2 separate regions of the Homo sapiens genome follow, and region 2 is linked to region 1. Evidence: fine-mapped expression QTL. Tissue or cell type: whole blood. Region 1 holds a variant in brackets; the other region holds the start of a gene. All regions are shown on one strand. Distances are from middle to middle.

Evidence for each region. PIP is the estimated chance that this variant, and not a neighbour inherited with it, causes the effect.
Region 2: CLEC2A starts here. The variant in region 1 is fine-mapped to the expression of CLEC2A in whole blood (TOPMed, PIP above 0.99).

Annotation. Positions count from the first base shown.
Region 1 is chr12:9,961,059-9,966,449 of GRCh38, reverse strand. It overlaps a transcript of CLEC12A not described here. Among named protein-coding and RNA genes, the nearest start is that of CLEC12A, 7.7 kb to the left of the region's middle. The variant GTTT/T (reference allele first, on the strand shown) is at 3,141.
Region 2 is chr12:9,929,195-9,934,585 of GRCh38, reverse strand. CLEC2A (C-type lectin domain family 2 member A) reads left to right here and starts at 2,216. Exons shown (of 5, transcript NM_001130711.2): 1 at 2,216-2,311. The coding sequence starts at 2,257.

The DNA.
Region 1 (5,391 bases):
AAGACCCCACTGGAAATCAGACTGTCCATCTCACCGGCAGCCACTCCCATAGCCCCTGGAACTCTGCCCCAAGGCTCTCTGACTGACTCCTTCCCAGATCTTCTCGGCTTAACAACTGAAGACTGTCACTGCCCAATCACCTCAGAAGCCTACAGGACCATCACAGACACTCTAGGTAACTCTCACAGTGGAGGGTAAGCCCGTCCCCTTCTTAATCAATACGGAGGCTACCCACTCCACATTACCTTCTTTTCAAAGGCCTGTTTCCCTTGCCTTCATAACTGTTGTAAGTACTGATGGCCAGGCTTCTAAACCTCTTAAAACTCCCCAACTCTTGTGCCAACTTAGACAATACTCTTTTAAGCACTCCTTTTTAGTTATCCCCACCTGCCTAGTTCCCTTATTAGGCTGAGACACTTTAACTAAATTATCTGCTTCCCTAACTATTCCTAGGCTACAGCCACACCTCATTGCCACCTTTTCCCCCAGGTCAAAGCCTCCTTCACATCCTCCCCTTGTATCTCCCCACCTTAACCCACAAGTATAGGACACCTCTACTGCCTCCTTAGCGACTGATCCTGCACCCCTTACCATCCCATTAAAACCTAATCACCTTACCCCGCTCAATGCCAATATCCTATCCCACAGCACGCTTTAAAAGGATTACAGCCTATTATCACTCTCCTGCTACAGCATGGCCTTTTAAAGCCTATAAACTCCCCTTACAATTCCCCCATTTTACCTGTCCTAAAACCAGACAAGGCTTACAGGTTAGTTCAGGATCTGTGCCTTATCAACCAAATTGTTTTGCCTAACCACCCCATGGTGCCAAATCCATATACTCTCCTATCCTCAATATCTCCCTCCACAACCCATTATTCTGTTCTGGGTCTCAAACATGCTTTCTTTACTATTCCTTTGCACCCGTCATCCCAGCCTCTCTTCACTTTCACTTGGACTGACCCTGACACCCATCAGACTCAGCAAATTACCTAGGCTGTATTGCCGCAAGGCTTCACAGACAGCCCCCATTACTTCAGTCAAGCCCAAATTTCTTCCTCATCTCTTACCTATCTCAGCATAATTCTCATAAAAACACATGTGCTCTCCCTGCTGATCATGTCCGGCTAATTTCCCAAACCCCAATCCCTTCTACAAAACAACAACTCCTTTCCTTCCTAGGCATGGTTAGGGCAGTCAGAATTCTTACACAAGAGCTGGGACCGCACCCTGTAGCCTTTCTGTCCAAACAACTTGACCTTACCATTTTAGCCTAGCCCTCATGTCTGCATGCAGTGGCTGCCGCTGCTTTAATACTTTTAGAGGCCCAAAAAATCACAAACTATGCCCAACTCATTCTCTACGGTTCTCATAATTTCCAAAATCTATTTTCTTTCTCCCACCTGACGCATACACTTTCTGCTCCCTGGCTCCTTCAGCTACACTCCCTTTTTGTTAAGTCTCTGACAATTACCATTGTTCCTGGCCCAGACTTCAATCCAGCCTCCCACAGTATTCTGGATACCACACCTGACCCCTATGACTGTATCTCTCTGATTCACCTGACATTCACCCCTTTTCCTCATATTTCCTTCTTTCGTGTTCCTCACCCTGAACACACTTAGTTTATTCATAGTAGTTCCACCAGGCCTAATCGCCACACACCAGCAAAGGCAGGCTATGCTATAGTACAAGTCACCAGCCCACCTCTTAGAACCTCTCATTTCCTTTCCATCGTGGAAATCTATCCTCAAGGAAATAACTTCTGTTCCATCTACTATTCTACTCCTCCTCATAGATTATTCAGGCCCCCTCCTTTCCCTACACATCAAGCTCGAGGATTTGCCCCCACCCAGGACTGGCAACTCTTAACTCCCTCTCAGAGGGGATAGATAATCTTTGCTGGCAGGGGACCCTCCAATACTTTCACCCTGATGAAGTTCTATTCTTTACTTTTATACTCAATCTTATTCTCATTCCCATTCTTATGCCACCCTCTACCTCTCCCCAGCTATCTCCACCACACTATAAACATTACTCATTCTCTCCTAGCTGTTTCTAATCCCTCCTTAGCGAACAAACTCTAGCTTTGCATTTCCCTTTCTTCCAATGCCTACACAGCTGTCCCCACCTTACATGCAGACTAGGCAACATCTCCTGTCTCCTACACCTCCAAACTTCCTTTAACAGCCCTCACCTTTACCCTCCTGATGAACTCATTTACTTTCTAGACAGGTCCAGCTAGACCTCCCCAGACATTTCACGTCAGCAAGCTGCCGCCCTCCTCCACACTTACTTAAAAAACCTTTCTCCTTGTATCAACTCTACTCCCCCCGTATTTACCTCTCACAACACAAACTACTATTCCTGTGGCTGCTCCTTTATGTATCTCTCAGCAAAGACCCACTGGAATTCCCCTGGGTAACCTTTCACTTTGATGTTCCTTTACTCTTCATCTCCAAAGCCCTCTTGTTGTTTACTTATACCCAGCCCCATAAATAACAGTGAAAGGTAGCTCATAGACACTCAACATTTTCTCATACACCATGAAAATCGAACCTCCCCCTCTACGCAGTTACCCCACCAGTCCCCATTACAACCTCTGATGGCTGCTGCCCTAGCTGGATCCCCAGGAGTCTGGGTACAAGACACCCCTTTCAGCACTCCTTCTCATCTTTTTACTTTGCTTCTCCAGTTTTGCCTCGCACAAGGTCTCTTCTTCCTCTGTGGATCCTCTACCTCCATGTGTCTACCTGCTAATTGGACAGGTACATGCACACTAGTTTTCCTTACTCCTAAAATTCAATTTGCAAATAGGACCGAAGAGCTCCCTGTTCCCCTCATGACACCGACACGACAAAAAAGAGTTATTCCACTAATTCCCTTGCTTATCAGTTTAAGACTTTCTGCCTCCACTATTGCTCTCGGTACTGGAATAGGAGGCATTTCAACCTCTGTCACGACCTTCCATAGCCTCTCTAGTGTCTTCTCTGCTAGCATCACAGACATATCACAAACTTTATCAGTCCTCCAGGCCCAAGTTGACTCTTTAGCTGCAGTTGTCCTCCAAAACCGCTGAGGCCTTGACTTAGTCACTGCTGAAAAAGGAGGACTCTGTATATTCTTAAATGAAGAGTGTT[GTTT/T]CTACCTAAATCAATCTGGCCTGGTGTATGACAACATAAAAAACTCAAGGATAGAGCCCAAAAACTTGCCAACCAAGTAAGTAATTATGCTGAACCCCCTTGGACACTCTCTAATTAGATGTCCTAGGTCCTCCCAATTCTTAGTCCTTTAATACCTGTTTTTCTCCTTCTCTTATTCTGTTTAGTTTTTCAATTCATACAAAACCGTATCCAGGCCATCACGAATAATTCTAAATGACAAATGTTTCTTCTAGCAACTCCACAATATCACCCCTTAGCATGAAATCTTCCTTCAGCTTAATCTCTCCCACTCTAGGTTCCCACATCGCCCCTAATCCCGCTGGAAGCAGCCCTGAGAAATATCGCCCGTTATCTCTCCATACCAAGCCCCCAAAATTTTTGCCGTCCCAACACTTTACCACTATTTCATTTTTATTTTCTTATTAATATAAGGAGACAGGAATGTCAGGCCTCTGAGCCCAAGCTAAACCATCCTATCCCCTGTGACCTGCACATACACATCCAGATGGCCGGTTCCTGCCTTAACAGATGACATTCCACTACAAAAGAAGTGAAAATGGTCTGTTCCTGCCTTAACTGATGACATTATAAAATTCCTTCTCCTGGCTCATCCTGGCTCAAAAGCTCCCCCACTGAGCACCTTGTGGCCCCCACTCCTGTCCGCCAGAGAACAAGCCCCCTTTGACTGTAATTTCCCACTACCTACCCAAATCTTATAAAACAGCTCCACCCCTATCTCCCTTCGCTGACTCTCTTTTCGGACTCAGCCCACCTGCACCCAGGTGAAATAAACAGCCTTGTTGCTCACACAAAGCCTGTTTGGTGGTCTCTTCACACGGATGTGAGTGAAAGTTATAACGGAAAAAAGGGAAAGAAATGAAGACAGGTGAAGAAAAGTGCACAGGGATAAAAATTTGGAGACACACACCTTCAGAGTCACATAATTTAAAAGTTGAGAGACCACAGTGACAGTGATATACTCAGGTACCAAAAAGAAACACACACTTGGGATCCAAAAAAAAAAAAAAAAAAGAAAAAACCGGTTATACATTAAAAGGAAAATTTAAGAAGATAAAATAACAGGACAATTTACAAGATAGAGATAAGACCAAAGGAAACCATGAGGGATAGTGAAATACCCCAGGGCTAGCTACTGCCGGAAGCCATTACTACATTAGGCCTGAGAGAACATTGCTGGTAGCAATTAACTGAAGCAGCAGAAACTATAGCTGATGAAGGCTGCCTCCCTGGAGGTACACTCAGCGAGAACAACTCCATATCCATTTCCTAGTGCTGTAGGGAAGGATTCTCCCACCTTTAAATCTTTTGCCTATTCTTCCTATTAGCACAAACATACCTAGAGCTTCAGGACAATAGTGTCCAGGGATATTATACATGAGAGTCAGTCACCATCCTAGGGCACTGCAAAGGGATTAGAATGGTGAAGAGTAGATTTATTGAAATCATTTTCTGAACCATATGTAGGCCAGTTTTTATCATTTGGCTTGTCAATTGGTGTTTTGATATTTAATTCTTTTTTTTTAGGTTGTCTCATAATTTTTTATTAAATAACAGGCCTTATGTATTAAAAACAGAAATTTTAAATGATCTTCCTACCAAAAAGTTTTGTTTCTTTTTTTCTGGCAGTCACACAGAATATAAGCGGTAAACCTTGATTAATTGGAGCCCCTCAAATTTTGCCTTCTCAGTTGTTTTATACATTTTATCTAAATTTTATAATTATCTTTTTGTAGGTTTCTTTCATCTGATACAAGTTGCAATGCTATGACTAGGATTGGCTTTATTCTGGCTTTGTTCTCCAACAAACTAAAATTGGGAGGTTATATAGTGAGGAAGGAATGTAGCTATGTGCAGGCAGAAATGTAGCTGTGTGGGGAGTGTAAACCAAAAATGAAATTCTAAGGCCCCTCAACCATCTGAATGGACTCCCTCTTCAACCACAGCTCTTTGAAAATTTAACCTGAGAGATGGGTTCAGGCCATGACAGGAAGTGCGTGTCGAACACGCTTCATTATATCTCTCAGGCATTAATACTTAAGTCTCTCTCAAGTCTGCTGTCTGGAGGCTTCATTTGCATGATAAAACCTTGGTCTCTACAACCTCTTACCACAACCCAGACATTTCTTTTCTATTGATTCCAGACCTTTAGATAAACTCAACCAATTGCCAATCAGTAAATGTTTATAGTTGATTGAAGCCTCGTGTC
Region 2 (5,391 bases), 32 kb after region 1:
TGAGGTCAGGAGTTCGAGACCAGCTGGACCAACATGGAGAAGCCTCGTCTCTACTAAAAATACAAAATTAGGCAGGCATGGTGGTGCATGCCCATAATCCCAGCTACTCAGGAGGCTGAGGCAGGAGAATCACTTGAACCCAGGAGGTGGAAGTTGCGTGAGCCGAGATCACACCATTGCATTCCAGCCTGGGCCACAGGAGAGAAACTCCATCTCAAAAAAAAAAAAAAAATGACACTGTGCTTCTGGAAATAACCTAATTATTACCAGAGGAAGGAATTCATGTCTATGCCATACAAGAGCTTTCACCCTTTAGAAGTGTTTTACGGAAGGTCACACACACACACACACACACACACACTGATCAAATTGCGGAATTCTCTGAAGCATACAGAGAATGGCATTTATTCTGGCAAGAACTGTGCAAATTGTTACAAGAAACATAAGGGATGGCAAGTATGAACAATTATATTTCAACAGATGCAGGAAGCAGTTGAAATATGGCTTCTCAACATCTGGGGCTTGCATACTTGTCATCTGGAAACCAGATTGGGTCAGTTACATGTGGAAAGGAATAAGTTATTGCCAGGCCAAATTTCCATATTAAAAGAAGTCTCCATTACCAGATTCTTTTTTTACAGACACCAAATAGACCAGGGAGTTACTAAAAATGGAAGGAGGTCGTGAGAAAGCAAGTCATACTATGAGTAGGACCTCACCTTATGAATTGCCTCTTTAGCAAAATCAACTGCAGAAAGGAAAGACATTGTCTGTTAAATGAAAGGTAATAAATGGAATTCGCAGGTGGACAAAAATACCTCCTGAAATCCCGTAACCCAGCGGGGTACAGATGAGACACGCCCTCTGCAGATACAGTGTGCAACTACCAGTGTGACTCTGAGTGCCCGTTTTCTGTCTCTGCACCGAAGCACCAAAAGCAAAGATTCCAGGCTGAAGCAAATTTTTTTTTTTTTTTTTTGAGACGGAGTCTTGCTCAGTTGCCCAGGCTGGAGTGCAGTGGCACGATCTCGGCTCACTGCAAGCTCCGCCTCCCGGGTTCACACCATTCTCCTGCCTCAGCCTCTCGAGTAGCTGGGACTACAGGTACCCGCCACCAGGCCCGGCTAATTTTTTGTATTTTTAGTAGAGACGGGGTTTCATTGTGTTAGCCAGGATAGTCTCGATCTCCTGACCTCATGATCCACCCGCCTCGGCCTCCCCAAGTGCTGGGATTACAGGTGACAGACACCGCGCCCAGCCAGTTTTACAGCTTTTTATAAAGATAAACATACTTATATGATGCAGCAATTCAATTTCTGGGAATTTATCCAAGAGAAAACTTGCTCACACAAAAATGCCTGTGTACAGCAGTTTCATACATAACAGTCCCACCCTAGAAACAAAAGTCCATCAACTAGTGATCAAAGAGATAATTTCTGGTATAACATGCAATAGGAATACTACTAAGAAATAAAAGGGAATGAACTACTTACCTGCACAACAACTTGAGTGAATCTCAAAAGTATTATAAATGAAATAAGCAAGAGACAAGACACTACATATTATATGATACCATTTATATAAAATTCTATGAAAGGGGCTGGCCGTGGTGGCTCATGCCTGTAATCCCAGTACTTTGGGTGACTGAAGCCAGAAGATCACTTAAGCCCAGGAGTTCAAGACCAGTCTGGGCAATATAATGAGACCTAGTCTCTACAAAAAATAAAATTAGCAGGGCATGATGGTGCGCGACTGTAGTCCCAGCTACTTGGGTGGGTAGGGCAGGAGGATTGCTTGAGCCAAGGAGGTCAAAGTTGCAATGGGCCAAGTTTTCCCCACTGCACTCCAGCCTGGGCAACACAGTGAGACCCTGCCTCAAAAAAAAAAAATTCCATGAAAGGAAAAACTATGTTGATATAAAGCAAAGTAATGCTTGCCAGGGTCCAGGGTCAGAAAAGATAGTGATTACACAAGGAAAAAAAGAAAGATGATGGAAATGTTCCATAGCACGGTTGTTGTGGTGTTTACATGATTGACTTTACGATCCTTTTGTTATGGATGAGTTAATTTTTAAATTCCTTCCTTAAACTAACAAGTCTGCCTACTTTTATCTTTGATCTAAAATTAGTACTGATGTTTTCCATTTGGATTGGTTAAGTCTCTTTTGACTGAAGCTTGCTCAGTGCCTAAATAAGTGATGTACATGAAAAGCTTTCTAGTCCTCTCCTACTGATCTCCATCGGTTAGCGCCTTGCCATGATTAATCCAGAGCTGCGGGATGGCAGAGCTGATGGCTTCATACATCGGATAGGTAAGTTTTATAGAGTGAATGAGAAGGAAGTAAAGGAAAGATAAAACAAAATACAGGACAGCTTAAAAATATGGACTCTTTACTTACTGTGAAAGTCTACTAAAGTAAGTGAGGGATGGGGAAGCACTTCCGGAGAATTGTGGAAGCCTGTTAGAGCATGTAGAGTTTTATGTCTGCAAGAGAGGGTATAAGCTTGTGTGTAAGAAGGTTTTGGGGCAGAATTTTATGGTACGTGTATTATATCTCAATAAGAATATTTTTAAAATGTACTTTCACAGGGAAAAAATTGCTTAACACTTTTATACAGAATAAAAAGCAAATGCTTCACTCTGGAAGGAGGCTTGATGATTGTGACTTCATAAGACTGAAAAGAACTTTTCAAAAATTTTAAGATTCAGCTAAGGCCAACAATGAAGTTTGTTTTCAGTGGATTGAAACATAAACAAACCAATAAATAAAAACAAGGTACACATACAAACACCCTCCATTCACAATAGTTCTGAGGGTTTATGTTAAAGAAAACGAATGAATTGTATGCCAAATGACTGGAATAGGAAGCCTGCCAAAACTTTAAGATAAAGACAGTGAAGAGATAAAAAGTAAAATCTTGAAATGAGTTAAGGACTCCAGCTGAAACCACTATCAGAGTTTACTGATATGAATTCCCAGGGCAATTGGGATAATTCTTTTAATAATAAGTAAGCCTGATACTCTTAAAGGTTGAAGAGACCTCAGTAGCTACCTAGTAAAACTTTTCATCTACCATACGATTTCTAGCTACAGCATTTCTAGCAGCCTATACTAGAATGTTTTCAGTGATAATATCTCTCTGTCTTAGAAGACTTTCCATTTTAATTTAAGGATGTTCTATTTAGAAGTTTCTTTAGGGTAAGGTTAAATTTACTTCGTTGTATATTCTAACTATTGGTCATAGTTACGAACTCTTGATCTATGAAAACTTCATAAGAAAATTTTTAAAAATTAGTCTACATTTTACACAATTGGACATTAGTATTACAAAAAGAAATAAGATTCCATCCCTTTAGCCAAATAAATTAGTCAGGCTTGTCTGGGTAACAGATTTAAGAGTTTAGAGAGTAAAAAGTGGAAGAAAATTTATCTCATTGCATAACGAGAAGACAAAATATGAAGTACTGTGAAGCATGTACTGGAAGATTATGAGAAAGCCGGGCTGCAGGAATCATTAGAACATCTAGTCTGAGAATTTAATTAAAGCATAATAAAAATGCTCCAAAAGAAAAGATATTAATGAAATGAAGAAGCACCAAGAACACAATAAAAACCAAGTGAAAATAATAATTATAGAAATATAGTGTTTGAAATAAAGAACACTTTGAGGAGTTAATTAATAGAATGGACGCTGATTAAGAATGAATAAGACCTAGGAGATGCTATTAAAAACATGACAGAAAAGAAAACAGTTAGAAAATATAAAATAAAAGCTGAGAGATATGAAAAATAGAAGTAGAAATGCCACCTTCTAGATAACAAGAATCTGAAACAGAGAGAGAGAAAAAAAGAATAGCGGATAGGAAATATTTGAAGAAATAATATTCCAACTTCTAAAACTAATAAAAGCCAAATACCTCAAACTGAAACTTCAAAAGTGTACAAACAAAATAGATAAGAAAAAAACATGCATCTGGCACAATAGAGTGAAAGAAAAATATACAAAATTAAAAAATGAGATAATAGGAGACGTTAGTGAAAAAGAGAAGAAATGAGAGGGATAACAAATCAAATGGTGGCTATTAGAAAAGACGAGAGAACTAGATGTCTAAAAGTTTGCAGAAGACGATACAATAAAGAAAATATCAAAAAAGTACAAATAATCACAAAAACCACAAATATTAAAATTTAATAAAACATTATGGAAATAATTCATCAATTATTATGGGGCAAACTCTGTTCCCTTAAAATTTTATATATTGAGGCTCTAACCCCCTCTACCTCAGAATGTGATCTGGTTTGGAGATAGTGTCTTTACCACGTTAAAATTAGGTCGGTAGGTTGGGACCTAATTTAATATTACTGGTGTTCTCATAAAAAAGGAAAATTTAGAGACGGATCCATATACAGGGAGAATGCCATCTTCAAGCCAAGGAGAATGGCCTGGAACAGATTCTTTCCTTACAGGCCTCACAAGGAACCCATCCGACCAACATCTTAATTTCAGACTTCTTGTCTCCAGAACTGTACGACAATACATTCCTGTTAATTTTAGCCGCCCAGTTTGTGACAACTTGTTACGGCAGGCCTAGCAAACTAAAACACTAATGCGCTTATAAATATTAAAAAAAGAAGGTAGAGGTCTAAAAAATATAAAATGCCAAAATGTAATGAGAAGAAATAAATAATTATAGAATTATAGAAATTAAAAATAAATACATTGAAAAGGCAACTAAAATAGAGTAATCTACTGATCTTTCAAGAAATAGCTAATTTTTGTATTGGACATCTTGCTTCAAAAAACAGCAAAATGAGAAATTTACCCCGATTTAATAGACTTTTTGATTTCCAAACAAAGTCAGAACAAGACAAAAAGAAACAGACTCATCTTCTTATGAAATTAGAAGTAGAAATTCCAAGAAAATATTTATTTACTATATACAACAAAGCAGTTAAAAATTCATATACAAGTGGATTTATGTTAGGAATGCTTAGATATCAGAATATCAGTGCAAAAAATATTAAAATTTTTTGAAAGAAAGTCCACACAATTATTCAGTAAGTGCATTTGATAACAACAAGGAAACATGATAACATTCAATGTCTATCTGAGATAAGTCCCTGTTAAGAAACTAGGAATAGAAAAATTCTTTTTTAAATTGCTAATGTTGTATGTTAAATTTATACAGCATTTTTACAGTGCTTAATAATGAAAATTTAAACATTCCATTTAAGATTAAAAACAAGAAAAAAATGTTCACTGTAACTACTACTGTTTAGCAATAGTGTAGTACAATGCTAAAGGTAACCAGTGATATAAGAAAACAAAAGGAATTATAAAGGACAAGGATTGCAATGGAAGAGTTGTATCTGCAATATTTTCAGATAAT